Homo sapiens: one gene and its partners. The protein of the gene in region 7 purifies or fractionates together with the protein of the main gene of each other region. This does not show direct contact. Each region holds a gene or a part of one and is shown on either strand. Other genes may lie near its edges.

Region 1 (3,500 bases), on a different chromosome or scaffold from region 7:
GCTCACGCCTGTAATCCCAGCATGTTGGGAGGCCGAGGCGGGTGGATCACTTGAGGTCAGGAGTTTGAGACCAGCCTGGCCAACATGGCGAAACACCATCTCCATTAAAAATACAAAAATTAGCTGAGTGTGGTGGCACAAGTCTGTAATCCCAGTTACTGCGGAGGGTGAGGCAGGAGAATCGCTTGAACCTGAGAGATGGAGGTTGCACTGAGCCGAGATCATGCCACTGCACTCCAGCCTGGGCAACAGAGCAAGACTCCATCTCAAAAAAAATTAAAAGAGTGCTCCGAGTATTGAGTAGTAGCTGAGTAGGCTTTTAAGTAAAAAAAAAAAAAAAAAAAAAAAACTAGGCTCAGATCCTGGTTCTGATACATACTTTGGTTCTGTGTATGTATTCTTTATAAGTGACCTTATATCCTTTCTGAACGTGGGACACACTTTTCTTTTTCTTAAATTAGCTGCAGGAAAAGACAGTAAATGACTAGCTAAAAAGGGTACTATAATAATCCAAATACAAGACAAAAAGTGGGCCCATGATTAGGACAACAGGAGCAGAGTGTGACACAGATGTCTCATGACCACCGTCTCCACATATATAATTCATACAGACAGCTTACAAATAGCATGAAAAAGCCAATAATACTTGGTAGCTTACTATTTCTATAACTTCAGATAATTTATTTTTACTCACTTGATTTTGGCAGAAGTTTTTATATTAGTCACCCGCTGGATTTCATCTTGCAGACTCATTTCAACATTAACCTCAGGATCTTCCTCCTCTCCTTTGCTAGAATGTAATCTAGAGGGAAGAAGAAAAGTATATCATGCTCTTATTTTTCTAGAAGCAGCTTTGCTCTTACTTGAGTTCAAAATCTGGCCCCTTGACCAACAAACTGTGTTATTCTGGAAAAGTCACTTAACCACACAGGATTACCATGATAATTAAACAATGTAGTATAAGTGGAAATGCTTTGTACACTACAATGTCATAAAGTATTATTTCACTTAATAGGTACCCTTAAGAAATGGATTCTGAATGCAATAGCCCATAAAATTTCTTGTAACAAGGTCCTTGTAATTCCAACTATTCCACTGAAATGTCTCCGGTTATTTTTCTAATTTCAGGACTTTTTAGAAAACTCATTAACCTGCACTTAACAATCCAACCATGTTAAATAAACCAGAATAGGTATCAAAAGATTTGCCAAATCAGATGATTTTCTGTCTCTCTGAGACTTGACAAATTTGGGTTATCGATACCTCACAAGTTCTTTAACTTTTAATGGTAATTGATAAGACAGTAAATATGAAAGAAGCCAGTTTTTTTTCAGTAACATGGGGCCTACCCAGGATACTTCATTATTAATGTAAGTATTAAGAAAACATACTTTGCTTTCTTTCTAGCTTTCTTCATCTTCTTATCCATTTTCTTCTGAATTTCCTTTTTGGAAAGGATACAAAACAATTCTAGCACAGAGTCAGTTCCCTAGAAAGGCAAAAGGTTAATGTGAGTCAAGGAGAGGTAATTTGTAATTTACCTAATTCTCAATTAAAAGTAAACAACAATATTTATTTTTCTTCCCTTAGTAGTTGTATTACCTTGGACAACTTAATCTCTCTGGGTTTGCTATCTCATCTGTAAAATGAGGATACCATTTCCTACTTGTAGCATTGCTCTGAAGGCTGAACAAGAAGTTAAATGCTCTTAAATTGCTTAGAAGAGCAAGCATTTAATAAATGGTTGCTAATAATAATACTGGTACAAAAGTAATTGCAATTATTACTTTTTAAATGGCAAAAACCACAATTACTTTTCCACCAACCTAATAGTAATTATTAATATTTTTGTTGTTATGCTAATAAAGCTAGAGATTATAGGTCCACACAGTACCATATAATGAATTATTAACATGAGTCAAGAAAAAGTCATCTTTACATTGAATATGAAAGAATGAGTGTTTGGAAGGAACAGCCTAGTCCTTGTTATTTTCTCCTAAGTATGGTACTCACATGGCAAGCAAGAATCCTGCCTGTCTTGTCGACTGCAAGGTTTACAACTCTGTCTCTTCCTTCCCGCATTATGGAACCAGCTTTTCTGCATGAAAGGATTCGCTACAGAAGAAGCAAGAGCAGATGAAGGTTAGATGTAAGTTCTGCTGAACTTCTGAAAAAAACATAATTCTAATAAGTGCAAGTGACAAAAATATTCCCTAAAGTGATGATTCCCTAAAAATCTGCAATTCTTACTTTCCCATTATTCAACACAATTAAACTTAAGAAATGAAAATGAATTACATCCTCAGGGGCTTCATCCGTCTCAAAGGCACCATCCTCTGCCTCAAGAGTATCTTGTATTCCAGGAGAAGATCCTTTGATTTTCTTGGGGTCTGGTTCTTCCGGGTCTTCAATCTGTTTTATAAAAATGAGAAAATAAAAGCTGAAATAGTATGTTCCAGGAGGCATGTTGTTGTTGTTGTTGTTGTTTTGTTGTTGTTGTTGTTGTTGTCGGAGACAGAGTCTTACTCTGTCGCCCAGGCTGGAGTGCAATGGCATGATCACATCTCACTGCAGCCTTGATCTCCTGGGCTCAAGCCATCCTCCCACCTCAGCCTCCCAAATAGCTGAAACCACAGGCACACACCACTGTGCTTGACTAATTTTTAAATTTTTTGTAGAGACAGGTTCTTGCCATATTGCCCAGGCTGGCCTCAAACGTGTGTGTGGACTCAAGTGATCTTCCTATCTCAGCCTCCCAAAGTACTGGGATTATAGGCATGAACCACTGTGCCTGGCCCAGGAGGTAACTCTTAATCCTGAAGACTTAGAAATCTTTCTTATGGCCAATAACAGCTTCTAATCAGTGATCTCCCTTATCAAACCTCTTCAGTAGCAAGGCAGGTATCAGAACTTATTAAAAACTGACTACATAATATACAAACAAAATATTACTTATTATACTATCTCCAAAAACTTTCTATAGCATAAGGACTACTGTTTAGTGACAATGGTGAAAAAATAATGACCCCACTCTTCACTAACTTCAAAATTTTCTGTATTTAGGTGAAAGGTTGACCATATTATAGAACAAAAAATTCAAATTGGCATTAGGAATTGCAAAAGCATCGCAAGACAGGTAGATACATTTTCTCCTTAAATAAAGAAAAGATAACCCCTAGCCTACTAATGTAACTCCCATCGAAATGGCTGCTGGACCCAGCACACACCGAAATTCAGCTAAACCTAAGGTCTGCAAGCTTTTCTTCTATGTAAATTCTTTGAATGTCTAAGAAAAAGTTATAGATCTTTTCAGAATATACATATTTATAAACATAAAATTCTACATATATATTTGAGGGGAAAGGTTCACAGATATTCTGAAGGCCATCCATGGACACCCAAAGGTCCAAGAATATCTGATTAAGAGTGCCACAAACTAAAACATTAGTATTACCAGAAGCTGTAAGCCTAAAGCTAACCTGAGCTCAAATAAATAAGGA
Region 2 (3,500 bases), on a different chromosome or scaffold from region 7:
GGTGACACAAGCCAGGAAACAATCTCAGCAAGCTGGGTGGGACCGTCCACCGCCAGCAGCATGTGTTGGGGCCAGGCAGGCAAGTGGCAGTGTCCACTCCAGCGTTCTTTCCTGTTCTGTGGGCTCCCCACACACCAGGCCGTGGCCCCAGAGACTGTGCTTGCAACACTGGATTCCTGGCTTTTGAAGAAGGATCTGACCTGGAGGGCTTGGCCTGTGCAACTGCATCGGACTTATCTAGAATCTGAGGAGCCCCAGCTCACTCTGGCCTTCATTAAATAAACACTCAGTGGGAGAAGCAGCACGTGAAATGTCCGTGGAGGTCCCTGACCAGGGATGGGCTGCTGCTGCCTGAAATTGGGTTGTGATGGGGTGTAGTGGGTCAGCGTGTCTGGTTGTCCGGGGATAGCTTTTCTCTGTGTGGTGGTCCAGTTTGGATGGAAAAGGGTAGAAGGAGCTGAGACTTAACGTTTGCTGCCTGTGTGCCTAGCAGCGTGCCTGACTCTTCTCAAACTCACACACGTTCCTGGAGATCAGCAGTTTTCATCATACACATTTTCCCTCTCTAAATATAAAGGGAGGGAGGCACAATTTGAAACCAGGGTATTAATCTGTAAACAGAAGTTGTGAGGCTACTTCATCCTGGCAGGAGCTGGTGTTCTGTCTCCGCTAGACCCTCCTAGGGGTCTGAAAACTCCACCGAGGCAAACGGGAATGTTCTTATGCCCCAGTGTACTCACAGAGGGACACTTGGCCTGCCTAATAGCTGGGCCTGCAACCTATGCCAGTAATAATTACCTTCATTCCTTTGAATCTGCCCAGCGCTGGGGAGACAAGGGTGTGTAGAAGCAGACACATGTTGCCTCATGGAGATTTATGTTCCAGGGACATTGTGACTTGCCCTTTCCTGCCAGCCTACTAGTACTTTCCAGAGACAGGCTCTGCCATGCTGAGTCTCCCCACCTTGTGTTCTTGTGGAGAAAAATCCCTCCTAAGCAAGCTGGCGTGGAGAAAGGGGCTGAAGGACTTTGACCATCAGGCTTTGCTGGGGGAGGTGATGTTGGCAACTGTGGTAGGTGCAGAGTCAGGCTGTGCTGGGAGGCGATGTTGGGAACTGTGGTAGGTACAGTCTCTGCCCTTGGGCTGCTTTCCTGAGCAGTTGCCCTGGAGCCGCAGGGGGTCAGAGGGGAGGCCCTCCTGCCATCTGGAAGGTCAGAGAGGCCTGGCCCTCACACAGCTCTGCCGTGGCAGAGGTCAGAGTCCCACCGTGTGGGGGACCTGAGCTCTCCCTATGCCTCCCAGGAGCATCTGATGATGGAACTGCTGGGAGAGGGGAGGGGTGGCATTCCTGCAGATTGGGTCCTTAGGGTGTGTTGAGGCACGTTCCCTGGACAGACCTTTAGTTACTGTTGATGTGCTTACCTGGCTGGCAGCCACCTAGCAAGGGCTCTGAAGTAGGTGGGCTGTTCTCCCAGTCTTTGGGGTCTAGGGACAGTTCTAGTCTAGTGAAGGAGCCAGGCAGGGCACAGTAATGACTTTAGTAGCACAGCTTGCAGGACCCTGCATTGGGAACCCCACTGAACCCTTGGCCCATCCAACCTCCTGGTTTTTTTGTTTTGTTTTGTTTTTTGTTTTTGTTTTTGTTTTTCTTTTAGTCAGAGTCCCACTCTGTCGCCCAGGCTGGAGTACAGTGGCATGATCTCGGATCACTGCAATCTCAGCCTCCCAGGTTCAAGCAATTCTCCTGCCTTAGCTTCTGAGTAGCTGGGATTACAGGCATGCCCCACTATGTCCAGCTAATTTTCGTGTTTTTAGTAGAGATAGGGTTTTGCCGTGTTGGCCAGGCTGGTCTCGAACTCCTGGCCTCAAGTGATCTACCCACCTTGGCCTCCCAAAGTGCTGGGATTACAAGTGTGAGCCACCTCCTGGTTTTCTGGGAAATATTCCCAGAGTCTTGGGGACTTCTCCCAAGTCACAGGTCCCTGGCAGAACTGAGACTGAAACCTGGTTTTGCTTTCCCACCCAGCCACTGTCTCAAAGTGTGGCGTTTCTCTGCTTCTGCTCTGTGGCCACAGTTGTAACCCTCTGGCCAAGTGGCTCCAGCCGTCTCTGAAGAGATACAGAGCTGGGGCTCTGGCCCTTTTTTGTGTCCACTTTCACCCGGGTAACTTTTTCCCTGGTGAAACCTACCTCCCAAATGTTTCTTAGAGGCAGCCTGGAGGGAGACCCGCAGTGGCTGTGAGCCTGGGGAGGGCTGGGTGGTGCTGGAGAGAGGTCTTATCAGATCTGGAGGTGTGGTTTGCTGCCTGCAGCTATGGGAATGCCTTCTTCCACGTCAGGGTTGTTTCCTCTTCTTGGAGTGGTCTGGGCTGCCTCAAAATCCAGGAAAGTGCGCCGCAGGTATTCTACTCCTGCCCGCTGGGTGTGTCTGGAGATGGACCATGCGGAGACGCTGGCCCACGGTGGCAGTGTCTGCAATGCCGGGGAGAAGCAGCAAAGCCTGTGGCCAAGTCTCTCTAAGCTATGCCTTTTTAAAAGGCCATCCTTTCAGAAGAGGCTGGTTGAGATCTCTTTTTTATGTTTAATTCAAAGGGAAAGCTGCATAGGTGCCTTTGGGGTTAGGGGAATGATCTTGGAGTAGAGAGGGCAGACACAGATGAAGAACGTGCTTGATCACCTGTTCTATGTTGAGCACTCCACTAGGCTCTCGGCATATGTTGCACCTTAACATTCACAATGATGCTATGAGGCCTTATCCTGATGTTGCAGATGAGGGAATTGCAGCTCAGAGGGATGGAGAGACTGTCTTAGCAGGTGGTTGAACCCAGGTTGACTGGTCTTGAGAACTTATGTTCAGAACTCCACAGCTGTTGCTGTGGCGGGGAGATTCTGTGCAGGGCCATGGTTGCTGAGACCAAGGAAATGGCCAATAATAAAAAGGGCTGGGCCGAGGGCATTCCGTGGCTCAACTCTAGATGTTTGGGCTTCCTGGTGGCCACCCAGGCTGTGCAGCCTCAGGGTTCGGGCATGGGTCTGCTTCCCTAATGTCCAGGCTAGCACATCCTCAAAGACAGGACTCTCAGCACCATGATGCAGCCCGCTCTACGCTTGTCTCATTCTGAGAAAGGAGAAGCTGCCTAGAGATCAGTTTACTCATAATTTTTTAAATGGCTACCTGTCTTATTCTTTCTGAACAGTTCCTCTGATAAACAGTGTATTCTTTAACTTTCTACTTTTAATTAAAATATTTACAAAATACATAATGATATATGTTCACTATAAAAAAGAAAGTACTAGATGTACAACAGTGAAAATCACCCATAATGCCACCTCTCAGAGTTAATTCCAGTGCACATTTTGTTGTATATTCTTCCTGCATTTGCATATAAATGTACATGTGTATATTTGTGGCACATACCATGTGCATTGCCTTGTAAATGTCTTCTGTCTGTATCAGCACATATACATATGCATCAGCACTATTAGTGGCTGCATTGTGT
Region 3 (3,500 bases), on a different chromosome or scaffold from region 7:
TCAAGGCAATGCTGTGGGGAAAGGGTGAAAACAGCTAAGATTAGGGGAGAGAGAGGTGGAAACGCAGGGATGTCATCCAGGGAGCGAGATAGCAGGAAAGAGGCAGGAAGCTGCAATTTGTACATTGCCAGTGGGAGGGGATGTGGAGTGGGGGAGGGCTGAGAAAGAAAGGGTTAAACGACAACATAAAACAAGCCCTCACTATAGGCACCGCATGCCTCTAAGTGTTATTGATATAACTCCTCTCATTTAATTCTCACACAAAACACCTGTGGCATAGCTACCATTCACTGCATCCATTTTACAGACCAGGCAATTTGAAAGGAAGAGAGGATTTAGGCGCCATACTCAAGGTTACCTGGGTAAGAAATGATGGAGCAAGAATGTCACCCATGGGACCACACCCCTGGTGAGTACCAGACGCTGCCTCTAATTCGAGTTCTTATCAGAAACAATAAAAGGAACCTGGGAAGTTGTGTGCTCAGGGCACCAGGGCCTTGGAATCCAGGAAAGTGCTGAGATGGGGTGTGAGAGTCACCAGACTTCTTAGCAAAGAAACATAATTCTACTAAAACAAGGTATGGGTACAGTGGTAGGGTTTCCTTGCCTAGTTGCTGCAACAAAGTTTCCTGACATAGGGTTTGCAGTGTAATGTTCTAGCTTTTAAACTTTCCTAGGGCACAAAGCTTGTGCCATCTCCCCACTGATGTCAACAGCACTGTCTATGAATAGAAATGTTCACTCTGCAAGCTCAGAGGCTCAACATATAACTTGAAATACTACATAGCAAGATGGATTATCATAATATTTTCCAGGAACTGAGTATCTCAAAAATGACAAGACAAAGATAACAGACAGGTATTCTGAATTGCCTTCTATTCCGAATTTAATGTTTTCCTAAACAAAATTACCAGGTTAGTTACAGTATTTGAAATAGTTCTGAATAAATCATGTTTCTCTAGCCTCAAGCATGCAGGTGAAATACGCATATCTCTCTGGTGTCTATCTGTCCATACAAATTCCCGAAACATGAAATTGACACAGGAAACCAATTAAAAAACAAAATTTAATGTTATCTTTTCAGTTACTGAGCTTGCATTTGTAGTCGCTACAACAGTGTGACATTTAATAGTGACTACTTGAGGGTGAATAGTTCAATATGGTGAATATGAAGTACGATGCAGGGCTTATGGCAAGGATTAGATGCACATGGAGCCAAGGACTTGGATCTTAAAGAACAAGTGACAAAACAGGAAGCAGAATGAAATATCTTAATATCATAATATCTTGTAGGTAAATTTAAATTTACATAAAGACACACATAGAAAAGAAAAATACTTGAAACAAATGGAGGGGAAGGGGAATGAAGGTGAGAATGGAGATGTGAGAACCAGGAAAGAAAGGATTGCTTCTGTTTTACTCTAGCTAAGAATTTTTCCAAAGTCTTTAAAATGGCCTATTAGAATTTTTTTTTTTCTATTTAGCTGGGCTTCAATCAATATAGAATTTTCTTGTCCATTTTTCTTTTTTTTAGATATAGGGCCTCATTCTGTTGCCCAGGCTGGAGTGCAGGGGCGTGATCACAGCTCCCTCAAACTCCTGGCCTCAAGCAAGCCTCCCGCCTCAGCCTCCTGAGTAGCTGGGACTACAGGAGTGTGTCACCATGCCCAGCTATGTTTTTTAAAAAAAATTTTTTGTAGAGAGCGGGGGTCTCGCTATGTTGCCTAGGCTGGTCTCAAACTCCTGGCCTCAGGTGATCTTCCTGCCTTGGCCTCTCATAGGGTTAGGATTAAGGATAAGCTACTACAACCAGCCAGAATTAATTTTCTAAATGCGTAAATTATCTTAAATGCTATGTTAAAACAATCTTATGCTTGCTATTACTATGCCTCCTGTTAAAAGTCAAGTTCTGTGTCTTTTTTGTTTTCGTTTTTGAGAGAGGGTCTTGCTCCTTGCCCAGGCTGGCATGATCACAGCTCACTGCAGCCTCCATATCCGGGGTTAAAGTTGATTCTCCAACCTCAGCCTCCTCAGTAGCTCAGACTACAGGCAGGTGCTACACTACACCTGGCTAATTTTTGTATTTTTGGTAGAGACAGGGTCTCGCTGTGTTGCACAGGCTAGTCTCAACCTCCTGGACTGAAGTGATCCACTTGCCTTGGCTTCCTAAAGTGCTGGGATTACAGGCATGAGCCACTACACCTGGCCTAAAAGTCAAGGTCTGATCCTTTGTAATATAGTCCTTAGGTTGACTCAGAATTCCCAAAGTCGATTCAGGAGAATCTAGTACTAAGTATTATCAACTGAATCTATTTTCAACTTGAAATCTGACTGTGTTCCTGTGAGATCCCCTACACAGCTCATCACTGTATTCATATTTAGCTCTTCCTCCAGGACTAGGTATTTAAAAATGAGATCAATATAAAGAAGGTACCATATATTTGTAATTAGAGTTCTGAGAGACCTTTCCAAATAGTTAGCTTCTCCTAAGTCAAAAGAGAATTTACCAAGAAACAAATAAAAATGAAATATCCAAATTCCAGAAAGCATAGCATTTCTGAGTCATATATCCCCTGAAGCTCAGAGCTAGGGCAGCCAAGATGACTTGGAACGCCTGATTCTCCCAGTATAGACAAACACCAGGATGTGGTAGCCACCATGTACGAGAACCACTGTGTGTAGGAACAAAAAGGCCACCAAGCATGAGCGAGGCAGCTCCTTTTCTGCACCAGGAAAGCACAAGACAAGCACATCTTACCACAATAAATGAAACAAACTGGTCAGAGTAGACATATGCCTATGTCGTGAAAGTCAAGGAAGATCAGAAGATTGAGTACTTTGGTACAAAAAAAAAGAAACGCTCCCTTTCTCCCATCTTACCTGAAGCCTGGGAGCCCCATGCCAACTTTTCATGCAGAAAGAATTATTTTGACAAAGGAAGATTAATGTCTTTGTGCTGGAAGAACATTTTTAAATACTGTCATACATATCTTTGCAAATTCTCCTTGTTCTCTCTCCCTAAACTTTAGTTTCATTTACCCTAAAGAACTGCTGAGAATTATGGGTTTCTGCATATGAATTCTTGTTAAGTTACTAACCCATGGTGCTCTTGCAGACATGTCACTCTATCATAATTCATTTCAACATTAATAATCCTACCCACACATCCTCCTCCTGTGGCCGGGGAGTCATCTCGCTTATCCTGTAATGTGCCTTTAATTGCCCCTGGGCAGAAGTGAACTATAAACAGTCTGTCAAAGCTTTAACTGGGATATCCTGTTAAAGCACTTTAAATAAATATTGCCATCTTTTGTAGAAAACAGAAGAAATAAAAAGAAACAAGACCATGTCCACAGGTGGTTTTCTGTCAGAATTAGATGATCTTCACATTTTCATTTAGAACATGAATAGTTTTTTCATCAAGCTGAACAAAAACGGTTCTTATTATTATATTCATACAGCAACTTCACCCAGTATCTGCTGGCTTCAAAAGCCTTGGC
Region 4 (3,500 bases), on a different chromosome or scaffold from region 7:
CTGGTTCACTCCTCTTTAGGCAGCCTGGTGGTCCTCCACTCCCAGGAGCTCACCATAGTGATGACAGACTTAGCGTAGACACTCCATTGGCACAGCACACCCCAGCCAACTCCTGGGCCCATGCAGCCCTCCTGTCTCAGCCTCCTGAGTGCTGGGACCACAGGCACATGCCACCACACCCAGCACAGTGTTTCTTTTATAATTATGCCTGGAATTTGTATTTCTTCCCATACAGATACCTTCACTTGCTGGATGGAAATGAAAATTACCCGTGTCTTGTGGATGCAGACGGTGATGTGATTTCCTTCCCACCAATAACCAACAGTGAGAAGACAAAGGTAGGGTGGCATGTGTGTGAACATGGTGTGTCTTCTAGGCTGTTCCCTGTAGAATTAACACAAGTCTGCGGGGCGTGGTGGCTCAACACCGGTAATCCCAGCATTTTGGGAGACCGAGGTGGGCGGATCACCTGAGGTCAGGAGTTCAAGACCAGCCTGACCAATATGGAGAAACCCTGTCTTTAGTAAAAATACAAAATTCGCCGGGCGTGGCGGTGCATGCCTGTAATCCCAGCTACTCGGGAGGCTGAGGCAGGAGAATCACTTGAACCTGGAAGGCTGAGCATAGTGGCACATACCTGTAGTCTCAGCTACTCAGGAGGCTGAGGCAGGAGAATCGCTTGAACCCCAGGAGACAGAGGTTGCAGTGAGTCGAGATCGCGCCATTCCACTCCAGCCTGGGCAACAAGAGTGAAACTCCGTCTCCAGAAAAAAAAAAAGAAGAGGAAGAAAGAAAAAGAATTAACACACACAAGTATCTGCTGCATTGTGAGGTTTCATTGTGTGCAATAGAAAACGCAGCCCAGAGGGGTCAAAGGGCCCCCTGGCTTCTCAGAGCTACAGCTCACTGTTCATGCTCGGTGCTGCGTGACGGCCCGGGATGCTGTGTGCAGCACTGCAGTCTTCCTCTGTAAGGAGTGGGCTTGGTGTGTGTGACGCCATCTGCTTAATTGATTGATTGAGATAGGTCTTGCTGTGTTGCCGAAGTTGGAGTGCAGTGGCAAGATCATAGCTCACTGCAGCCTCAAACTCTTGGGCTTAAGCGATCCTCCCATGTCAGCCTCCTGAGTAGCTGGGACCACAGGTGCATGGCACCACACCTGGCTAATTTTTGTATTTTTTTGTAGAGATGGGGTCTTGCTGTGTTGTCCAGGCTGGTCTTGAACTCCTGAGCTCAAGCAATCCTCCCACATCAACCTCCCAAAGTGCTGGATTTACAGGTGTGAGCCACTGTGCCTGGCCACACAGTTTTGTAGATTTTTCCTGAGAACAAATGTTGCAGTTGCTGATGTCTACATTTGATAACTGTTCTTTTCTGAAATGTTTTTTTCTTTTAAGGTTAAGAAAACGACTTCTGATTTGTTTTTGGAAGTAACAAGTGCCACCAGTCTGCAGATTTGCAAGGATGTCATGGATGCCCTCATTCTGGTGAGTGTGGGGTGGCTCCTCCTGAGAAACGCTTTTGAGCGTGAGTGGTGCTCTGCTCCTTGACTTCCCACCCGTCCTGCTTGCCTCTTTTTTGCTTACTGTGTTGGCAGACAGCAGCATGTCTTCCCTGGGTCACCTCTCATCTCCAGGTTAAAAAGGTATTTTTTATTTGCAGAAAATGGCAGAAATGAAAAAGTACACTTTAGAAAATAAAGAGGAAGGATCACTCTCAGATACTGAAGCCGATGCAGTCTCTGGACAACTTCCAGATCCCACAACGAATCCCAGTGCTGGAAAGGACGGGCCCTCCCTTCTGGTGGTGGAGCAGGTCCGGGTGGTGGATCTGGAAGGGAGCCTGAAGGTGGTGTACCCGTCCAAGGCCGACCTGGCCACTGCCCCTCCCCACGTGACTGTCGTGCGCTGACGCCAGGGCCGCCTGTCCGCGTTTGTTTGGCCGGTTTTGCGGAGGTTTCTATGCGGCAATGCTGAATTATCCGTTAGATTTTCACCCCAGTTTTTTTGTTGGTTTTTTTTTTTGAGATGGAGTCTCGCTCTGTCGCCAGGCTGGAGTGCAGTGGCGTGATCTCGAGTCACTGCAGCCTGTGTCTCCTGGGTTCAAGCGATTCTCCTGCCTCAGCCTCCCAAGTAGCTGGGACTACAGGTGTGTGCCACTAAGCTCAGCTAATTTTTGTATTTTTAGTAGAGACGGGGTTTCACCATTTTGACCAGGATGGTCTTGATCTCTTGACCTCATGATCTGTCCACCTCTGCCCCTCAAAGTGCTGGGATTACGTGATCCACCCGCCTCAGCCTCCCAAAGTGCTGGGATTACAGGCGTGAGCTGTGCCTGGCCCACCCCAGCATTTTTTAAGATGTATGTATTCGTTGTTCTGTTTTTCCAGATGATTCTGTCGTAAAGTGATGCTATGTTGTCGTTACAACATCAAAGTGATTTTACGGTTTTTGATGGGATTATTCAAGTGTCAGAATTAACTGTTCAAAATGTTCTGAATCATGTAGATACATGGCAGGTAACTGTTTATGGGAGAAAAGTACAGTGCTGTTACGTGGCACTGTACAGTCATGTGCCACGTAACAGCGTCTGGGTCAGTGACGGACACTTACCTGACAGCGGATCCACAATATTCTCGTGCAGTGTGTTTGGAATCCTGGTCTGGGCTCTCGTCGTTGGCCTTGTAGATCAAGTAGGGGAAGTGAGTGATGTTCAGTCATGCTGCTGGGACACTTGGTTTTCCAGATGAAAACACATAAATAAAACTACATGCACCATCGAGGCTTGTGTAAAGACTCTGTGATCACACAGCAGCGGCTAAGCACACGTTTCTCATGTGTCACTGAGCGACACGTGACTGTCACTGGTTCGGAGACCCGAAAACTTGGGAAGCCAACCGATGTGCGTTTCCTTGAACGGCACGGTCACTTTCTATGACGCAGCATCTTGTAAAACCATATCATGCCAGGATGCAGCTTGGCATGTGCAAGGGCGTTGGGTTCTCCAGCTGGCAGTGATCATAATCTTGGGGGGAAAAGTTTTAATGTGACCTTAGAATTGGCAGAATTGCGTCTCTTCATACTGCTGTTGGATTGCTTTGTGGGGGTGGAGATGTGGAGACCCCTTCAGGCAAGCAGCCTGTAGGCTGAAGGCAGTGGCAGCACCTCACCCTGGCTCAGCGGGGCCAAGCGGAGGAGAGCGGCATCGGTGGGGTTTCCATCGTGTGCACGCTGGTGCTGCAGTGACAGGCAGGTGGAGCCCCAGGAGTGGACCAGACGCCTCTGCTTGGGAAGCATCGGCAGTCCTCAGCCAGCCGAGGGACAGATGGTAGCAAAAGCTGGAGGATGCTTAGGTTTTTGAGCCAAAAATCTTCATTTATGCGCCAGAAAGGTGGGTCCTGGGCGCCTTCTGTTGTAGACGTTTCCGTTGTGAATGTCCAGGTCAGACCCCCACGTCCATGTGTCTTCGTGTATGTCCAGGCACCACATGTGCGTGCACAC
Region 5 (2,598 bases), on a different chromosome or scaffold from region 7:
AATACAGCTATTTACATCAGGCTTTCTGGAGGCCCAAGAGCACAAGAAGAGGGTTAGGAGTCGGGAAAGTATTTTCCTTTTTTTATGGGACAGGGTCTCCCTCTGTTGCCCAGGCTGGAGTGCAGTGGCGTGATCATGGCTCACCACAGCCTGAAACTCCTAGGCTCAAGAGATCCTCCCACCTTAGGCTCCCAAGTAGCTGGGACTACAGGTGTGCACCACCATTCCTGACTAGTTTATTCATATTTTTTGTAGAGACAGGTTTATTTATATTTTTCGTAGAGATGGGTCTCAACATATTGCCCAGGCTGGTCTTGAACTCTTGGGCTCAAGTGATCCTCCCACCTCGGCCTCCCAAAGTGCTGGGATTACAGGCATGAACCACTGTGCCTGGCCAAGAATGACTTTTATTCAAATTTTGCTGTTAACTCATTGGTAATCTGGATGTCTTTGGCCCTCTCTGAGTCTCAGTTTCCTCAATGAAAAAGGAGGAGATTGGATTAGTGATTTTCAGACTTTTTATTTTAAGAAACAAACAAAACCTTTCTTCATACCAGATCTTACTTTTAAATCTAATAAAGCTTTGAATGGGCCTGGAGGCTCCCTCTCCACGAGGCCCCAGAGAACAGTATGAAAACCGTGGAAGTAGGTGACCTAAGGTCCCTTCCGCCTCTAAACATCAGGAATCCATGAACCCTGCCTCTGGAAGATAAATAGTGACCCCCCCCCCGCCCCCTCCTCGCTGAGAGCCCCTCTCTCCTAAGAGGCTGAGCTGATTCATACCCTGCACCTACGACACTGGATTATAGCACTGGCAGGAGAACCACAGTGACAACCCAAATCCAGGGGCTCAACAACTGTTTGTGGGTGAAAATGACAGATTTATTCAACTTAAATGGTCACCGAGGCTACAGCAGAACCAATGCTGTTACAATAGGCAAGCACTACTGTCAGCAGCAACATACCATTTATTTCTTCAACAGCATCTGAGCCTCATGGGTTATGTTTTCATTAAAAAAAAAAATCTTATAAGCTAGTTGGGAAGCTGTTAAAGGCCAATTTTAAATGGCAATGTAAAACAAATTTCACTGAAAATACAATTCAAATACAACTGCTATGAGCACTGTAAGAAAAACTGACTAGTTACTCAGATATAATAGAAAAGACCTTAAATGGTAAATAAAACAATAGCAGCATTTAAAAACCTGGTAACTCCCATTTCAGAAGACGCCCTTCCCCTGCCCAGACCTTCATGCCTCTGAACACCTGCCTAGCCTAGGAGAGGCCTGTTCAAGCAGGGAGGCTACTGGTATCTGCACACAACATGCAGATGAGCTCTACACCAGCCGAGAGGAACAAGGCTTCAGTGCAGTTGTGTGCTGGGGACAGCAGGACTCGTGTTTAAGTGTCAGAGGCTTAGAGGGGTCAGCTCTGAACTAGAAGTCTCTCACATATCTGGTCCTGCCCTTGAGAAATCTTGTCAGTAATCTCAACTTAGAACAACTTTCTGGAAAATGTGACTAGAAATTAAACAGCTGGGACTCCTGCCACATTATCCAAAAGTCCAAATGGATAGTCACTTTGCTCCACAGCCCAGGGTCCACTTTAAATTCTGCTGTTAGCCCTCACCTACTGCAATCAGGTGGATACAGCTGCAGCCCTGGGGACAGGTCACTTGAACTGGCAGCAGCTAAATGAAATCCTGCAACAGCACCTTCAAATCAGCCCTCATTCCCAAAAGATCAATAGAGGTCAGGGCTAGAGTTAACTTCAACAGGCATGGGATCTCCCAGCCTCATGTGCAAGCAGGCAAGTATATCAGGATATGCCTTTAATTCTCATCTTGATGTTTTTTAATAGCCAGAGATTGTTTAACAGGTCCTCCAGCACCTTCTGTTCATTCTCCTTTAGATCTACCACAGTAACATTCTAATTCATAGAATATTCTTTGCTAACATGAAAAGAGTTAGCATATAAGCAAAATTATTACAGGAAAACTTTTCTGTACATCCTCATAGAGAATCTCAGTGGATTAAGGCAGCTGTAACTTGTTTTGGACTGCAGTTACAGAGGCCAAGGTATAGAAGAAAGGTAACGAGAGTGCCAGGATAGGAAAGTTCTGAGATGAAGACAACCTGGCAGCTCAAAGTCACAGTTCATGCCCTGTTGCTTCAGACCAAATTCCCTCTACAGCCTGAAGCAAGCTGGCCTTGCCCACAGAGAACTGCCTTTCTCCATATGCAGCCACCTCCCTCAGGGCAATTCCTTGCCTTGGATCCTCACTGCACCTGCTTCACCAGCATCTTGGCTCTTCATCTCCCTACCCCCAGAGAAGCTTTCCATTTAGGAGCTCGCAACGCCCTTCCTAGGCCATGCCAGTGTTTTAATTTGCTGGAGACTAGCCCACAGGAACAATAGTGGCTGTGTGTAGACACGATGGCCATGGCACACACTCATGGTTTTCACAACTTCATATGAATACACAGACTGGGCTGCCTGGCGGACTGAGGGTAGCTGAGATGGCACATTCTCCTTCCACAGAAGAATGATTTCTTGTTTTCAAACGCCTGCTGGGTGGCACTTACGGCTTTCACACTA
Region 6 (3,500 bases), on a different chromosome or scaffold from region 7:
CTTTGAAAATTAATTTTATCTTGCAAAAGAAAAAAATATGCTTCTCACCTTGCAATCACACTTTTAGAAATCTGATAGAAATAATTACATCAGATAAATACATAAAGATATTCACTATAGCATCATTTGTAATAGCAAAAAAAGAAATAACCTATATCAAGAGAAATAGAAAGAAGCAGAAAAACCAGACTGCCTACATTTGAATATCACTTCTACCACTGACTGGCACTGCTACTCAAGCCAAGACACTTAACCTCTCTGGACCTCAGTTTTCCCACATGTACAATAGGAACAAGAATAGTAGCTACCTCAGAGTTATGAAAATTAAATTTTTGTAAGGCATTTATAACTGGAAGGCACATAGTCAGAACTATGGTGTTTGTTAAGCAAAGAATTAAATAAACCTTACATAAAGAGAGTAGTGACATTATAATGTGTTTACCATGATTAAATGCTAAGGTTAAAAAAGTGGTAGAATATATAGCATAATCCTCTTTCCATTAAAATACAAAGTTGAGTTGTTTCTATGTGTATGTGTTTATATATGAACTTTAAAAGGCTGCTGGAAAAATACCCACCAAATGGTAAATGGATACCCACCTAATGACACTGAGAAGTGTCAATAGGTATAAAATGCTTTTTTTCAATTTTATATACCTCTTTTGTCACCTGATTTTGTTACAAGTGTGAATTACTTCTGTAATTGAAATAATATAAAAGGGGGGAAAAGACATGCCTCAAACAAAAAAAATCATTGCATTATAAGAACTTAGCTCTGTTCATTTGTATCACTACTTACATGCATTAATATTCTGGTAGTTGCTAAAATGCCAATACTTGAATTTGGAAGAACATGAAGAGCAAGGGTACAAAGGCGTTTGATGAAGGCAAGAGCTCGCTGCTGAGAAACTTGCTTTCTGCGCTTAGTTAGCATGACATCAAGGCACTGGAGTACAATCTCAACACCTTCATTGGTAGCACCTAAAACAGCAGACATATTCTTCAGAGCTGTTCTCATTACTTTTTCATTACGCAACTGGACTGAACTTCAGATAAACCCAAGATAAACTTTTGTACCTGTCCCAAACCATTTCTCTAATCAATGAGGTAGTGCTATACTGCTAAGGAGATACAGCGGGCTATACTTACTGCATCTCCAGTCAATTCCAGAAGCTCTTTCTCCAAGTCTTACATAAGATTAAATACAGATGCATGGCACTGGAAAGTCACCATTTTATGTACCTGTTCCTATTTCTCATTTGTCTACAATGATGGGTCATAACATATTCTTAAAACATAAATACATATAAAAGAAACATTATCTAAACATACATACCTGCATGTAATTTGAACAGTGTTTTGTAGAGATGTGTGTAGAATTTCAATGGATCAATATTCAGAACATCACCTTTGAAATGACAACAAACACCAATTAGGTATGTTATAGCATTCAAAGGTAAGGCAAACAAAACTTGATTAAGAAAATATCATACCTTGTCCAGAAAGAATATGAAAAGCAGTCTGGACACAGTGAAGACTTTCTTGATAGCTTAGGTCCTTTAAAAAAAAAAGGGGGGGGTGAGGGGGATGGAATATTAAGAATGGTAATTGCCATTTATAGCTTTAAAAAAGAACTTTAAGGCCAGGAGCAAAGACTCAAGCCTGTAATCCCAGCAATTTGGGAGGCTGAGGCAGGCAGATCATTTGAGCCCAGGAGTTCAAGACCAGCTTGGGCAACATGGCAAAAACCCATCTCTCAGGGCCGGGCGCGGTGGCTCACGCCTGCAATCCCAGCACTTCAGGAGGCCGAGGCGGGCAGATCACGAGGTCAGGAGATCAAGACCATCCTGGCTAACACGGTGAAACCCTGTCTCTACTAAAAATACAAAAAATTAACCGGGCATGGTGGTGGGCGCCTGTAGTCCCAGCTACTCGGGAGGCTGAGGCAGGAGAATGGTGTGAACCCGGGAGGCGGAGCTTGCAGTGAGCCGAGATCACGCCACTGCACTCCAGCCTGGGTGACAGAGCAAGACTCCCTCTCAAAAAAAAAAAAAAAAAAAATTTCTACAAAAAAATAGAAAAATTAGCCAGGTATGGTGCCCCACATCTGTAGTCCCAGCTACTCAAAAGGCTAAAGTGGGAGGATCACCTGAGCCCTGGAAGGTCAAGGCTGCAGTGAGCTGTGATTGCACCACTGCACTCCGGCCTGGGCAACTGAGTGAGACCCTATCTCAAAAAAGAAAAAAAAGACCTATAAAGGTTATCTTTAAGATAACCTAGTATGAGGCAGATTTACAGGGTGACTATAGTTTACAATAATCTATTATCTATTTCAAAATAGCTAGGAGGGAAGAATTTGAATGGTTGTCACATAAAGACACATATTTAAGGTGACTGATATCCCAAGTAAAATATTTACAAACTATATTATATGAATATATTTAATTATCACATATACCCTGAAACCATGTACATCTATTATGCATCAATTTAAAAAAAAAAAAAAGAAAACAGGTCAGACAACCCTCCTGCTTAAAACTCTCCAATGGTTGAAAACGTTCTACATCTTGACTGTGGTGGTAATCATATGATCATAGGCCTTTGTCAAAATTCATAAACTGTACATCTAAAAGGGGTTTTACTGTATACAAAATATATCTCAATAAACCTGAAAAATTTTTAAAATAGTAATTACCATTTATATCTTTTAAAAAATAATTTATTATTACTTACACCAGACTCAATGAGAGTATGAAGAACTACTAACAGATCATCAAAAAATTCCACATTTATAAGGTGAGCAAACCTGGAATCAAACAAAACAGTTAATCAGTGAACTAAAAGCAGAAATAAAGCTGGTAGAAATTAAGCTTGACTTTAAAACTGTATTTTTAATATTCTTTATTTCGAAATGTTAGCTATGAAAGACATGGCAATTATTGATACTTTTCATTAATTCAGATTGGCCTCTTCAACAATTCATACACCATTGAACACTAAACTCAGTAGAAATATATAAGGCACTGAACAAACCAAAAATATTTCAAAAATCCTTCTGCACTGAGAAAGAAATTACTAGAAGCAAACAACTTCCTGAGGAAAGTTTAGGAGGTATCCGGCAGGATCGGCTTCTAAGAAAACAGGTGGTGGGAAGAGAGACAAGGAAAGATTCTGCTACTTACAAGAATATGGACCTTATGACAGCTTTAAGGATAAAATGGAAAGAATACTGGACCCCAGTATCTAGTTCAGGCTCTGCTCTTAATTACCTGCGTGATCCTAGGTAACTCACTTCACTGTCCTGGGCCTCTATTTGTAGAAATAACTGAGACCACCCAATAGGGTTAAAGAAGAATCATATGAGCTGCTAAATTTGAGAGTTACTCCATATACTATAGTAGACACTGAAGTAGGTTAAAGTCAGGACATCTCTTCAATATTAGCAAGAAGTCTTTGATCTATGTAAATCTTAGAAGAATAAAAGACCTTATGAGTGACAT
Region 7 (3,500 bases):
TCCCAAGTAGCTGGGACTACAGGTGTGGGCCGCCACACCCGGCTAATTTTTGTATTTTTTTGTAGAGAAGGGGTTTCACTATGTTGCCCAGGCTAGTCTCAGACTCCTGAGATCACGCCATCCACCTGCCTCAGCCTTCCAAAGTGCTGGGATTACAGATGTGAGCCACCATGCTTGGCCATATTTTTAAATGTGGTGTGCATTTGCACATTTCCAGTTCAAAATAGCTTCTCCCAAGGCTCCATATTTCTGACTCTAGGCTCAATCCATAAAAGATCAAACAATATAATTATATGCCTGGCTTCAGGTAAAGAGGGCCACCAACACAGTAGTATAGTTATCCTTAAAGTGTAAAGAATGTACAAAATTTAGGTTCTATATAATGAAGAGTCCTTCAGTATGGAGCAAAATTGAGATATTAAATGAAATTATTTCAGAATTTAGTCATAGGCAGAACCCTCCTCCTCTCAGTCAACTGTTCAGTTTCCCAACTTCATGGCATTATATAATCTCTGAGCCATCTGCCAGTAAGATCCCCAGCCTGGGCAGCTTCAACCTCAGACAGGGGTAATCCCAGCTTCACTTCTGGCACCTTTATTTTAAGCCCCTCTCATCTTGTTTATGTTCACATATAACTGCTCTCTAGTTTTGCCTAATGTACGATATTCCCCTCCTTTTATAAAAGGCCTTAACATATATATGTATATACATAAAGTAGATATATACTTCTAAAGACTCACAAGGGCATCTGAAATAGTGATTGCTTGTTCTCCCCTAGTGATTTAATAGATTCCCTTGAGTAAGTATGTATGTATGTATGTATGTATGTATGTATGTATGTATGTATTTATTTATTTGAGACAGAGTCTCACTCTGTCGCCCAGGCTGGAGTGCAGTGGCATGATCTCGGCTCACTGCAACCTCCTCCTCCTAGGTTCAAGTGATTCTCCTGCCTCAGCCTCCCGAGTAGGTGGGACTAAAGGCGTATGCCACATGCCCGGCTAATTTTTGTATTTTTAGTAGAGAGAGGGTTTCACCATGTTGGCCAGACTGGTCTCGAACTCCTGACCTTAGGTGATCCGCCCGCCTCAGCCTCCCAAAGTGCTGGGATTGCAGGCGTGAGCCACTGTGCCCAACCCGAGATATTATTTAAATCTTCACCTGTAATAATTTCTTTTAATAGCATTTCCTCATTGTTAAATGAGAAAAGAATATATAATTTCTTAAATTTTCTCAACTTAAGCCTCTTTCAAAGTTGGTGACCATCTATTCACCCAAAAGTATACAGATGATTCCCAACTTAACACGGTTCGAACTGGGATTTTTCAACTTTACAAGGGTGCAAAGGTGATACACATTCAGAATGCTCTACTTCAAATACACATACAACCATTCTGTTTTTCATTTTTAGTACAGTATTCAATATTCAACACTCTGTCATAAAGTAGAATTTGTGTCGGATGACTTTGCCCAACTGCAGGCTAATGTGTGTTCTGACCATGTTTATGATAGGCTATGCTAAGCTATAATGTTCCATAAGTCAGGCATATTAAATGCATTTTAGACTTATGATATTTTCAATTTATGATGGATTTATGAGGAGCATCTGCACTGACAAAGATTTAGCAGCAACATTATGCATAAAATACAACTGTTATGACTTTCTTAAAACAAAAGATCAAATATAAATTATGACAATAATTTTCTCAAGATCAGATACTTACACATCAGCCAAAACTATCCTTGTCCGTGTCACATTCTCTATGGTGAATTTGGTTTTTCCTCCTTTGCCAGCGATTCTTCCTATTGCCCTGGATAGATGGTCTCCCTTTAGGGGTTTAACTAAACAAGAAAAGCAAGATCTCAGGAGGCAAGCCATTCTAGTGTACCACCCATTCCACATAAAGTTTAATCATAAACTAAATTTCTCTAAAGGACACAAAGTGTATATATATATATATAAGTTGCTAAAAATACAGCTCAATTGATGCTATTAGAAAACTGAGAGTCACATCACAATACAAAGTCAGCGACACAAGAGCGCAGACCAACACACACTCACCATCTGTAATTTCAAAAGACTCTAGGAAGAGGTCATCCAACCTGATGAGGGCAAGTGCATCCTATAATATAAAAACAAACACCGTGAAGCCCCTTCCATTTGCACACCTGAAAAAGAGTAAAGTGCAAAGCACTATGGAACTAAAATCCACAAACTCTAGAGCTAGAAAGCTTTTTTTTTTCCCTTGGAGACAGAGTCTTACGCTGTCGCCCAGGCTGGAGTGCAGTGGCGTGATCTTGGCTCACTGCAATCTCTGCTTCCCTGGTTCAAGTGATTCTCCCACCTCAGCCTCCCAAGTAGCTGGGACTGCAGGCATGCACTACCACACCCAGCTAATTTTTTTGTATTTTTAGTAGAGATGGAGAGTATCGCCATGTTGGCCAGGATTATTTTGAACTCCTGGCCTCAAGTGATCCACCTGCCTCAGCCTCCCAGAGTGCTGAGATTACAGGTGTGAGCCACTGTGCCTGGCCTTTTTTTTTTTTAATGCCTAATCCATTGAAATGTTCACATTGAATATTTTTAAAGTCCCCATTTTAGATATCATGGAATTACTCACCTCCACCTGAAAGCCGAGAATAAAAGCTTTCACAAAATCAGCTGCTTTTGTCAGAGCACTAACATCCTTGGTTTCTTTACAAGTCTGTTAAAAAACAAAAAAGGGTACAAAATACCGTTGAGAATCAAACAGAAAATGTCCTAACAAAATACTGGAAATGTCCTTTCCCATTATTGGAGAATTTCCTTCACCACCACCTTTCCCTAATATATTCTGTATGACACAGGTTCTGGTCAGATAAGTGCTGTACTTTATTTGCAAAACAAAACGTTCCCAGCTCCAAAGCTTGGCTGTTCCACCCAAAGAGTGTCAAATAACTAACCGCACTATATGATCAGATTTTGGGGTTAACAGCAAGACTCCTCTGGCACAACCCAATCTCTCCCATTCTGAAGAACCTCTACCTTCTGTCCATCCCTTCAATGCCCAATGTCCTCTTCTCTTCTCTCTCAAGGCAGTCTTCCCTGGGATTCCTGACTTAATCTTCTTAGTTATCATTTATATGCTGATGTTTCTTAAACCAACAGCTCCAGGCCTAACTACCTGCATGCACTGATTGGGGAAATAAAGAATGAATGAAGCACTGAACCTGTCCTCAAAGTTTATTTGAGAAATGCAGAAATAACTGTTATTCATAAAAAGCCTACCACTGTAAATAACACGTACTATAAATAACATGCTTTACACACCATAACTCTAACCTTCACAACAACTTTGAATGTTAAGTGATATGACTACCTTCGTATGTGAGGAAACTAAAGTACTAAAAAGCAAAAAAGGTAAGATTTAAACACAGGTCTGATTTCAAAACTGTTATTTCCACTGTCCCATGCACATTCACAGTCTAGTTGAAGAGACCACGTATTCAACAAATGTAAA

The links.
Region 1: the proteins of PNO1 (region 7) and WDR3 fractionate together in Homo sapiens (co-fractionation; one large-scale study listed by BioGRID). This does not show direct contact.
Region 2: the proteins of PNO1 (region 7) and KSR1 purify together in Homo sapiens (co-immunoprecipitation; one large-scale study listed by IntAct). This does not show direct contact.
Region 3: the proteins of PNO1 (region 7) and MYB purify together in Homo sapiens (co-immunoprecipitation; one large-scale study listed by IntAct). This does not show direct contact.
Region 4: the proteins of PNO1 (region 7) and LRRC47 fractionate together in Homo sapiens (co-fractionation; one large-scale study listed by BioGRID). This does not show direct contact.
Region 5: the proteins of PNO1 (region 7) and MTMR3 purify together in Homo sapiens (affinity purification with mass spectrometry; 3 studies listed by BioGRID and IntAct, with this or other methods). This does not show direct contact.
Region 6: the proteins of PNO1 (region 7) and NOC3L fractionate together in Homo sapiens (co-fractionation; one large-scale study listed by BioGRID). This does not show direct contact.

What each region holds. Positions count from the first base shown.
Region 1 is NC_000001.11:117,939,739-117,943,238, reverse strand, and holds part of WDR3 (WD repeat-containing protein 3), read right to left. Parts: intron 2,413-3,500; coding exon 2,299-2,412; intron 2,116-2,298; coding exon 2,014-2,115; intron 1,490-2,013; coding exon 1,392-1,489; intron 803-1,391; coding exon 695-802; intron 1-694. UniProt on the Homo sapiens protein: Part of the small subunit (SSU) processome, first precursor of the small eukaryotic ribosomal subunit.
Region 2 is NC_000017.11:27,459,448-27,462,947, forward strand, and holds part of KSR1 (kinase suppressor of Ras 1), read left to right. Parts: intron 1-3,500.
Region 3 is NC_000006.12:135,212,308-135,215,807, reverse strand, and holds part of MYB (transcriptional activator Myb), read right to left. Parts: intron 410-3,500; exon of another isoform or gene 308-409; intron 1-307. UniProt on the Homo sapiens protein: Transcriptional activator; DNA-binding protein that specifically recognize the sequence 5'-YAAC[GT]G-3'. Plays an important role in the control of proliferation and differentiation of hematopoietic progenitor cells.
Region 4 is NC_000001.11:3,779,499-3,782,998, reverse strand, and holds part of LRRC47 (leucine-rich repeat-containing protein 47), read left to right. Parts: intron 1-235; coding exon 236-338; intron 339-1,397; coding exon 1,398-1,487; intron 1,488-1,662; coding exon 1,663-1,911; 3' UTR 1,912-3,500.
Region 5 is NC_000022.11:30,028,771-30,031,368, reverse strand, and holds the end of MTMR3 (phosphatidylinositol-3,5-bisphosphate 3-phosphatase MTMR3), read right to left. Parts: 3' UTR 501-2,598; downstream 1-500. UniProt on the Homo sapiens protein: Lipid phosphatase that specifically dephosphorylates the D-3 position of phosphatidylinositol 3-phosphate and phosphatidylinositol 3,5-bisphosphate, generating phosphatidylinositol and phosphatidylinositol 5-phosphate.
Region 6 is NC_000010.11:94,338,940-94,342,439, forward strand, and holds part of NOC3L (nucleolar complex protein 3 homolog), read right to left. Parts: intron 2,807-3,500; coding exon 2,734-2,806; intron 1,558-2,733; coding exon 1,494-1,557; exon of another isoform or gene 1,489-1,493; intron 1,409-1,488; coding exon 1,337-1,408; intron 982-1,336; coding exon 800-981; intron 1-799. UniProt on the Homo sapiens protein: May be required for adipogenesis.
Region 7 is NC_000002.12:68,160,888-68,164,387, reverse strand, and holds part of PNO1 (RNA-binding protein PNO1), read right to left. Parts: intron 2,706-3,500; coding exon 2,622-2,705; intron 2,124-2,621; coding exon 2,063-2,123; intron 1,843-2,062; coding exon 1,725-1,842; intron 1-1,724. UniProt on the Homo sapiens protein: Part of the small subunit (SSU) processome, first precursor of the small eukaryotic ribosomal subunit.